Regions from separate parts of the Homo sapiens genome. Here region 1 is linked to region 2. The links come from fine-mapping of genetic effects on gene expression. A gene starts in region 2. The other region holds a variant in brackets. All regions are shown on one strand. Distances are between the middles of the regions. Region 1 has its middle 7.7 kb from the start of LL22NC01-81G9.3. Region 2 holds the start of CSF2RB (colony stimulating factor 2 receptor subunit beta).

Evidence for each region. PIP is the estimated chance that this variant, and not a neighbour inherited with it, causes the effect. A credible set is the group of variants that fine-mapping cannot tell apart.
Region 1: its variant is the best candidate, but not a certain one, in a credible set for the expression of CSF2RB in whole blood (INTERVAL, PIP 0.52).

Annotation. Positions count from the first base shown.
Region 1 is chr22:36,954,818-36,960,199 of GRCh38, forward strand. No RefSeq gene overlaps it. Among named protein-coding and RNA genes, the nearest start is that of LL22NC01-81G9.3, 7.7 kb to the right of the region's middle. The variant G/GT (reference allele first, on the strand shown) is at 2,404.
Region 2 is chr22:36,911,412-36,916,793 of GRCh38, forward strand. It overlaps CSF2RB (colony stimulating factor 2 receptor subunit beta), which reads left to right and starts at 2,217. Exons shown (of 14, transcript NM_000395.3): 1 at 2,217-2,266. RefSeq lists an enhancer at 50-751.

The DNA.
Region 1 (5,382 bases), 43 kb after region 2:
CGTCACACCTCTACTTCCCCTGCACCCCATTCCCATGCCCCACTTCCCCTGCACCCCATTCCCATCCCCCACTTCCCCTGCACCCCATTCCTACACCCCACTTCCACTGGACCCCATTCCCACAGCCCACTTCCCCTGCACCCCATTCCCATGCCCCACTTCCACCTTAAGGACTCACGTATACCCAGGCACTATACAAACACACACACCCACAACCACATGCACAGACGCCAATGCAGGCACCCCTGACTTGCATCAAAGTCAACACCCAAATGGGCCAAATGGCTCCAAGTGGAGGAGGAGGGGCAAAAGACAGGCATGGGCAGAGGGAGAAGAGGCTTCTGCTTCTGGCCATAATGGAGTAACTAGGACCAGGTATAGCCTTCTACTTTAGAAGTATAAAACTGGACAAACGATATTAAAAATCTGTTTTCAGCTGTTAGAAAAGAGGAGTCCTTCTATATGATCGCTCAGAGAGTGAAAACAAACACGGTAGGTCCTATGATCATCCTACCTTTCTTTTCTTTTTCTTTTTTTTTTTTTTTTTCTGAGAGGGAGTTTCGCTCTTGTTGTCCAGGCTGGAGTGCAGCGGCGTGATCTCGGCTCACCGCAACCTCCGCCTCCCGGGTTCAAGTGATTCTCCAGCCTCAGCTTCCCGAGTAACTGGAATTACAGGCACTCGCCACCACACCCAACTAATTTTGTATTTTTAGTTGAGACGGGGGTTTCTTCATGTTGGTCAGGCTAGTCATGAACTCCTGACCTCAGGTGATCCTCCCACCTCGGCCTCCCAAAGTGCTGGAATTACAAGCATAAACCACCGTGCCTACCTTTTTCTACCTTTCTACCACTTTCTTGACTGTGACGTAGGTAAAAGAACTCCAACATGACCATGGCAGTCTTGCTGTGTTGGGCGATAGGGGTCTGAGTCTGAAGAGGCAAAAGAAGCTGGAATTTGGTGTAGAAAACAAGAGAAGAAAGAGCTGCACAGAGAAAGAGACCCAGCAAATCTACACAGAGATCCTCTTGCATGTACTGCTGCACACTAAACCATGCATGTGTGGGGTGGAGCTCCACTAGACTGTGTAAATAGTACACAGAGAGATGTATCTGAACAATTTCCAGAACTCACCAAGGTCTGGGAGATGTTCAAGTTCCAACAAGCCAGAATAGGAATTCTTACTGAACACCTCACACATTCAGTAGAGAACCAAGAAGAAAAACACCTTAGTGCCAGCACTAAACCAGCCCAGGAGAGGGCCATTCTAAAACTGCTCTAGGCCAGCATGGTGGCTCATGCCTGTAATCCCAGCACTTTGAGAGGTCAAGGCGGGTGGATCACTTGAGGTCAGGAGTTCGAGACCAGCCTGGCCAACGTGGTGAAACCCCATCTCTACTAAAAATACAAAAATTAGCTAGGCGTGGTGGCAGGTGCCTCTAATCCCAGCTATTTGGGAGACTGAGGCAGGAGAATTGCATGAATCCAGGAGGCGGAGATTGCAGTAAGCAGAGATTGCACCACTGCGCTCCAGCCTGGGCAACAAAGTAAGACTCCATCTCAATAATAATAATAATAATAATAATAATAATAATAATAATAAAAGTCCTCTAAGGAAGCTTAAAAACAAACCTTAAAAGATCAAACTGATTGATATGGTTTGGATTTTTGTCCCCATCCAAATCTCATGTTGAAATGTAATCCCCGATGTTGGGGGTGGGGCCTGGTGGAGGTGTTTGGATCATGGTTGGGGGATCCCTCGTGAATGGCTTGGGCCATCCCCTTGGGGATGAGTGAGCTCTCACTCTGAGTTCACAGGAGATCTGGTCATTTAAAAGTGTGTGGTACCTACCCCTACGCTGATCTCTCTCTCTCTTTCTCTCGTTCCTGCTTTCATTGTGACGTGCCTGCTCTCCCTTCACCTTCTGCCACAATTGGAAGCTTCCTGAGGCCTCCCCAAAAGCTGAGCAGATGCCAGCACCATGCTTCCTGTACAGCCTGCAGAACTGTGAGCCAATTAAACCTCTTTTCTTTATAAATTACCTGGTCCTGGGTGTTTCTTTATGACAGCATGAAAATGACCTAATACAGAAAATTGGCACTGAGAGTAGGATATTTTCCATATTAGGTCATTCTCATATTGCTGTAAATCAATGAATGCCTTAGACTGGGTAATTTATAAAGAAAAGAGGTTTAATTAGCTTACAGCTCTGCAGGCTGTACAGGAAGCATGGCACCGGCATCTGCTTCGTTTCTTGGGGAGGCCTCAGGAAGCTTACAATCATGGCAGAAGGTGAAGAGAGAAGGCACGTCACACAGTGAAAGCTGGTACAAGTGAGAGAGAGAGAGAGAGAGAGAGAGAGAGAGCACTAGTGCAGAGGCAGCTGCCACACACATTTATTTTA[G/GT]TTTTTTTTTATGTTTTTATTATTATTTTTGAGACGGAGTCTCGCTCTGTTGCCAGGTTGGAGTGCAGTGGCACGATCTCAGCTCACTGCAACATCCACCTCCCTGGTTCAAGCTATTCTCCTGCCTCAGCCTCCCAAGTAGCTGGGATTACAGGCGCACACCACCACACCTGGCTAATATTTCTATTTTCAGTAGAGACGGGGTTTCACCATGTTGGCCAGGCTGGTCTCAAACTCCTAGCCTCAGATGATCTGCCTGCCTCCGCCTCCCAAAGTGCTGGGATTACAGGCATGAGCCACCATGCCTGGCTGGTGCCACACTCTTTTAAATGACTGGATCTCCTGTGAACTCAGAGCAAGAGCTCACTCATCACCAAGGGGATGGTCCAAGCCATTCAGGAGGTATCCCCCCGACCATGATCCAAACACCTCCCACCAGGCCCCACCTCCAAGATTGGGGATTACATTTCAATATGAGACTTGGGTGGGGACAAATATCCAAACTATGTCACTGATCTGCAAGTAACTTAATGACTCATCAGAATAAAGTCCAACACTTTTTGAAGAAAGACAATACAATGCAGCAGTCACCAACATAAAATAAACAATGCTCAGCATCCAATCAAAAATTACCAGATGTAGGCCAGGTGCAATGGCTCACACCTGTAATCCCAGCACTTTGGAAGGCCGAGGCGGGAGGATTGCTTGAGCCCAGGAGTCTGAGACCAGCCTGCACAACATGGTGAGACCTTGTCTCTGCAAAAAATAAAATAAAATTTAAAATTAGCTAGGCATGGTGGTGTGCACCTGTAGTCCCAGCAACTCGGGAGGCTGAGGTGGGAGGATCACTTGGGCCTGGCAGGTGGAGGTTGCAGTGAGCTGAAATCGTGCCCCTGCACTCCAACCTGGATGACAGTGAGACCCCATCTAAAAAAAAAAAAAAAATTACTACATGTAGAAAGAAGGAAGAAAATGTAACTCATAACAAGAGAAAAATCCGTCAAAGATAGAACCCCAAAATGATGCAGCTCATTATGGAACTGGCAGACAAGGACTTTGAAACAGTTATTATGAATAGGCCGAATAATTTTTCAAAAACATGAACATAACAGAAGTGGAAGATGTCAAAATAAAAACAAATAAAACTGCCACAGATAAAAGTACAACATATGAAAAGAAAATGTCATTGAATTGGCTTAATATTAGTGAATTTGAAAATATAGTAATTGAAATTATCTAAATTAAACACAGAATAAATCTGAAAAATATTACTATAAACTCCCATTCATCATTCAAGCCTCAGCTAACGCAGGGCCTCCTCCATGCAGCCTTCCCTGACTCCTCATGGGGATACAGATGGGAGTGGCTCCAATAACCACAGCTGGTGTGAGCCCAGAGCCAGACAGACCCGGGTTGGACTCCCACCTCTAGTATTGCTAAGAGTGAGACCTTGTGCAAATTATCTGCATGTTACTTCTCCAAGCCCCAAAACTGTCATCTGTTACTTGGAGATGGTCATCTACAAACCTCAAAATGATTTTGAAGGAACCAAGTGAAATAATGCCTGTCACATGGAAACCGATGATCGGAGTTAGCTAAATCACTTGTATTTTCCTTGGTTCCTATTTTGCCCTGTCCCTTCTTCCCATACAGTCCTGGAGTGCTCAGTGTTCATGCCCACCCCCAACCCCCCACAAACACACCTGATTCATATCTCTCTCCCTGGTTATTTGCACATGTCCTGGCACAGAGTTAGCACTTGAAATTGTGTGTTGGAAAATTTGGGTATTGGAAGGTATTGGAATGAATGCATGGATGGATGGATGGATGAGTGGGTGGGTGGATGGATGGATGGAGGGATGGATGGATGGATGAGTGGGTGGATGGATGGGTGGATGGATGGATGGATGGATGGATGGATGGATGGATGGATGAGTGGATGGATGGATGGATAGATGAGCAACTTCTTGAGGATAGAAGCTCCAGAGCCTATGCTTTTCTACTTTGCATCTCTGGTTCTATCCAGCCAGGTATGAGGCTGTGCACACAGACTGAGGAAACTCACTTGGTGACATAAAGACTGGGTGCCCTGTGTAAGCCACAGAGATGGGCACATTGAGTCCTGATGTTTAGAATTCAGAGATTGGTGTCTACCTTTTCTTCCTGTCTTTTTCCTGTGTTGGGGAGAAGGTCAGGGAGGAGGAGAGGGAATGGTGGGAACCACTGACATTCTGCCTTGATGATTCTTGAATTACTGCCTGCCAGGAAGGGGACCTGGCTGGGAACAGTGTAGGATGCCCTTCCCTGGTGGGGAAAGTCTTTCCTGGAGTGGAGGATTGGAGGGTGTTCAGGGAATGCCTGGGGCGCCCTGGGGACCCTGAGCTCTCTTTGGCACCCCTGCATGTGTGTGAAATCACGGTGCTGGCATGGAGAGGGTACTCAGGGGACATAAAGGGTCTGAGCTAATGTCCTGTCCCCAGCATTCTTTCTGTCTTGGATGGTCCCACTTGGCTTCCTTGAACCCCTTCACCACACTGGGAATGCAGAGAGGCACCAGACCCACGGCTGGCCAGGAGGAGCTCAGTCTGAGATGTGCACAGAGTGGAAGTAGGAGGATGCTTCTCAGAGGATTGCTGGTGCTGGACTCATCCTTCGTGCCCTCCTCCCACAGCCATGCCCTGAAACATTAGGACCTGGGAAAACTGACCCGGCACAGGGTCTGCGGGGGATTTCTGCTGCCTGGAGCTCAGGAAGCTGCATCTTATTGCCGCAAGGAAATGTCTACCCTCACCACCCACCAAGAGAGTGCAGAGAGACTCACACTGCTGGTCCCTTCCCTCGGTGAGGAAGATGCCTCTCAGCCTCCCAGCTCCCTGAGTGGCAAGAGCTCAGTACCCCCGGCCAGGCTGCAATGTGTGTGCAATGCAGAAATGTATGTGGTATGTGGAAAGTAGAACACAGGAAAATATCAAAGCCAAA
Region 2 (5,382 bases):
GGAAAAAACAAGGCATCTGTTTCAAACTGGAGGCCCGAAAGACATGGCAACTAAGAGCCATGCATTTAGAGAGAATGCAAAGTCCCGGATGGATTTTCTTGTTACAAAACCATTATTGAGAAGCTTAGCGAAACTCAAAGGGGGTTTCCACATGAAGGGTATGTGAGAGTTCTTTGTATCATTCCTTTAACGCTCTGTATTTTGAAATAGTTTCAGAATAAAAATGGAAATGGAAAAAAATGCAATGTTAACATATACGAGTTACTACTTTCAACAAGTTATCTTCCTTTTCATGCCTCAATTTCTTCATCTGTAAGGTGAAGACAGTAACAGCTACATAAAGGTTATTGGGAAGAGATGGAGAAGCCCCCAGCCGAAGGTCTGCTCACAGCGTAAATGCTCAAGCCCTGGTCATTATGAGTACTACGTTCTTGCCAACATTTTCTTGGGTTTCTTAGTCTCTAAAAGATCGTCAATTGCAAGACACGGTATTTTACATACCACTGAAGGAAAAAACAAACAAACAAACGAAAACATTCAATGAATTCCTGACGGTGTGATTCTTCTCGCTTAGAACTTTTAATACTTATTGAGAGAACTCTGTTAGACTCATTCAAATGTAGATTTTTATCCCCTGCTGCTCTATGATGACTTTTAAAAGGAAAGGGTCAGTCAAGTGAATTGGCTGAGGTGTTCCTAAAGCTCCTTCACATTTTGGGTCTGGTGTCCGGAGTGATTTTGACTCAGAGTCTCGGGTTCTTCGTTTCTCCACCAGACAGCATCCTCTGTGCTCCTGAGGGCATCCAGGCCCGCAGCCTCCCAGTCCCACAGAGGACCTCAGCAAAGACAGGCAGAGTGGGGACACCTGGGAGAAAAGAGAGCCCGGGACGTCACTTTAATTCCATCCTCTCCAGCCCTGGAGAAGCCCCTGCAGGGTTTTTCCATGCCAGGCAGGGACCTCACACTGACCGGAGTGCCTGAGAGAACCACACATGCCTTCCTCTACCCTGGGCTTTCTCTGCTAGGGTGAGGCCCTGCCAGCTCTTCCTGGCCAACCCTGCCCTTCCTGGTAGGAGGAAAGCAAAGAACAACAATCAGGCCAGAATTCCAGTGGCTTCGAGGCAGGTTCCTGCCCCTCCATTTCCTCCATTCCCCTCATTCTTGCCCTCCATTCCCCTCATTCCTGCCTGCTGCCCTTTCTCCTGGGAGGCAGCCCCATGTAGGAGAAATATGACTGCGTTTTGTTGTGTCTTGGCACTGTGATTCATCTTGTCTTTATTCAAACTTTTCATATTTGGTTCACCGTGAATAGTTTCTGCATCAGTTGGGATTTTTTTAAACCATATTGCATTAAAATATTACTTACAACAATTACTGAATTTTTAAATGCCTGTTTAAATTTTGAGCACGAGAGACTGCCTCACTCACCTGACCTTAATTCTGCTGGCCCTGCTGTGCTCAGGGAGCCACTCATTCATTCATTCATTCATTCATTCATTCATTCATTCATCTATTCATTTGCACACAGTCAAAGGTGCAATTTCTCCTCTGTACCAGGCCATGTGCTAGGTATTTGGGAGGGAAGTGCAAGCCGGACACAAGCCAGCACTGAAGATAGTGTCAGAAGAAAGACAGCCATGAACACACATGACCATATGACACATGGTGGGGTGGGGCGGCAGGGCAAAGAGGACATCGGGGAAATCAACATGCCACCAGCTACCACTTGTAGGGGGTTCTCCTGTGGCCAGCTCTGAGCTAAGGTCTTCCTGCACAGAATCTCACTGGATTCCCTCAACAGTCCTTCCAGGTTTGTAGATGCTTCTGCAAAAGTAACAGACAGATGGATGTCCCGAGGCTTGGGGAAGTAACACGCAGATGATTTGCACAAGGACACGCTTTAAGAAGCAGTGGACTTGGAAGTCCAACACAGATCTGTCTGGCTCTGGGCTCAAACCAGCTATGGTTATTGCAGCCACTTCCACCTGCATCCCCATCAAGCAGTCAGGGAAGGCTGCATGGAGGAGGCCCTGCGTCAGCTGAGGCTTGAAGGAGGCCTAGGAGTTTATAGGAAGGTAAATTGGAGTAGGAGGCTTTCTGGAAGTAAGAAAAGTCACGTGCACTATTAGCAAAGTAGGCCTGGGCCGGCACTGCTTCCTCTTTCTGCTTCTCTGTTTCCTGATGACATCAACATAAATAGGAAACGTGGGAGGCTCACTCTGCCTAGAGGCTCCAGAAGAAGACTGGTCTCTCCCACCACACAGAGGTATGGCCCGGCGTCCAGGAGCAGGGCTGAGGGGTGGGGTCAGAGCAGGGGGGAATGTGGGGAGTCCAGGATGAAAAAGGACAGGGGGAGCCTGGGGGGCGTCCTGTGGGTAGCTGTGCCCTGGGGACTTGGAGGAGTTAGGGCTTGGCCTCTTAGGATGACCTGAGCCCAGACTCCTAGGGCGGCCAGTGGATGGGGAGGCAGCCAGGGGTGCCAAGCTGCTTGGGTGTTGTAGGAGAGCTCTGGGGAGGACTCAGCCTCGCTAGCGGGATCTGGTTGGTCCTGGTGGGAAGGACGCCTAGTGGGGTGAAGAGAGCTCAGGCCTGGGAGTCAGGCACCTATAGTCTGTCTTCGCTTTGTCACTAAGATGCTGGTGGTAGTGAGAGCACCCCCTGTCCACCCTGGGCTTCTGTCTCCTCATCTGTGGAATGGGGAGCATGGATAGTCCCTGACATCTTGGTTTAGAAAGAGAGAGAACGCATGCTCGTGTGTTTGCCCGTGTGTGCATTTGTGTGTGTGCCTGTGTGTGTATGTGCATGTGCGGATGTCTGGGGATGCAGGAGTGCAGAGAGACTAAGAGGCAGAGGGTGAAACCTGGAAGCTTGCTGCGCTGAGGCCCAGAGCTGGGTGCGGTGTGGCTTGAGAAGCTCACTTTGAACTTGAGAAAGAGCCCAGCACTTTGCCCAGAGACATACCAGGCACTATCCAGCAATCTCTCTCTCTCTCTCTCTCTCTCTCAGTCTCTCTCTCTGTCTGTCTGTCTTTTTAGTTATGACACTCTGCCCTGCTGATTTGGGTTGCTGATTTGGGTTGGGGCCCAGGTGTGTGTGTTCTGTACCCAAGTATGCTGGCTGGGTGGGTGGGTATCTGGGGTGCCTGCTTCAGGGTGTGTGCAGGTGTGTGTACTGGCCCTGAGAATGAAAGGGCAGGTGTTTCACTGGGACCTTGTCAGACAGGTGCTAGCGACAAGCTGCATATGTGCAATTTTTAGTCTTCAAAAACCCTGCTGTTATATTTTTGTACAGCCCAATTCTAATTTTTTTCTATCATCTTTCCTGCTTTGTAATCATTTTATAATGAGTAAACATTTCCTATTAGCTTTTGGTCACTCTTTTTTTCATCCAGCAGTTTTATTTATATTGTTCCAGTATACAGATATACCAACACCACAGGATAATTCATGAGTTGTATAAGGAATGTATTTAATGCTAAACAAGCAACTACACAGAAACCTACCTTCATGAAAATTAGAATAATCTAGAATTATGTAGCACAAGAGACAAAGTCCCCAGCAATTTCTTTTCCCTAGTTCCATAGCTTATTCTTTTCACCACATGTATTCTTCCAGAACATTTTCTAAGCATGATACAAGCATATAGTTTTTCTTTTCCTGTTTGTTTTTTGTTTTGTTTTGTTTTGTTTTTGTGACAGAGTTTTACTCTTGTCGCCCAGGCTGGAATGCAGTGGTGCAATCTTGGCTCACTGCAACCTCTGCCTCCCGGGTTCAGGTGATTCTCCTGCCTCAGCCTCCTGAGTAGCCGGGATTACAGGCATGAGCCACCACACGTGGCTAATTTTTGTATTTTTAGTAGAGACAGGGTTTCACCATATTGGCCAGGCTGGTCTCGAACTCCTGACCTCAGATGATCCGCCTGTCTCAGCCTCCCAAAATGCTGGGATTACAGGCTTGAGCCACTGTGCCAGGATGGTAGTTTTTCTTTTTACAGAAATGGGATTATTTTATTTATATATATATATATATATTCCTAATTTTTTCACTTAATATTGTATTTTGGAATATTTCCAAATTTCTACAATAATACATACAGATTTAACTCGTTAAGTAACCCTAAGAAATATGTGGCATTTATTAGGATGGGTACACCACAATTCATCTAATCTCACGTTGATCGACACCTAGATTGTTTCTAATTTTTCCACATCTGTGAAAGTGTTTCTGTAGCCTAAATTACTAAATGCAGAATTGCTGTGCAGAGGTTGTGCGTTAGAAATTATAATAGGTATTGTCAAATCAGCCTCAAAGTAGCTGAGCTAAGCTGACGTCCCCAAGGTAGTGCATAAAGGGTCCAATTTACCTTTAGAGAAATTATCAATCTTCTAATTTTGTCCAATATTATGTATGGAAATTCTCAATGTCGCGTGATTTTTTTCTTTCCCTGATTATGGGTGAAGTTGTACATTTTCTATATGTGGATTGGCCTTTTGGATTTCATTTATGATGAATGTGGAGAAATTTTTGTTCATCTCCTGTTGAATTCTCTTTTACATCTTAACTTTTGGAGTGACTCATTTATTACGTGTATTAATAATCCATTTATATATGTTGAAAATATATTCTCCCAGGTTATGACTTATCTTTTTCTTTACCATGTTTAAGATGTCTTATGTCATATAAAAATGTTTTCATTGTTAAGTCAAACCTGTCATTACTTTTTACTTTATGGTTTCTGATTTTGGTGTCTTGTAAACCTCTAAGATCACAGGTGTCTTGTAAACCTCTTTTTACTTTATGGTTTCTGGTTTGGTGTCTTGAAACCTCTAAGATTACAGAAAGAGTTTTAATAATTTTACTATTTTGGTTTTGACTTTGAGATTTTTAGCCCACCTAGAATTTAGAGAAGTGAGTAATGTGTAAAGTAACTTTTAAAAATAATTACCATCTAATTGTCTTAACATTGCTAATTATGAGTGTGTGATTTCTCCTCTCTTCAATGATTTGAAGTGCCCCTATTACATCCTAGGCTTCTATACATACTTCGTTATTTTCTTTATTGTTTTCTCTTCCATTTGGCTGTCACTACATTCCTTATTATTTTTCTAACGAATGGAGCAAGTCTCTCATCTCTGGTTTGTTATAATTTAGAATCAGTTTGCCAAGGCCAGGCACAGTGGCTCATGCCTATAATCCCAGCACTTTGGGAGGCTGAGGCAGGCAGATCCCTTGAAGTTGGACGTTCAAGACCAGCCTGGCCAACACGGTGAAACCCCATGTCTACTAAAAATACGAAAAATTAGCCGGGTTTGGTGGTGTGCACCTGTAATCCCAGCTACTTGGGATGCTGAAGTGGGAGAACTGCTTGAACCCAGGAGGCAAA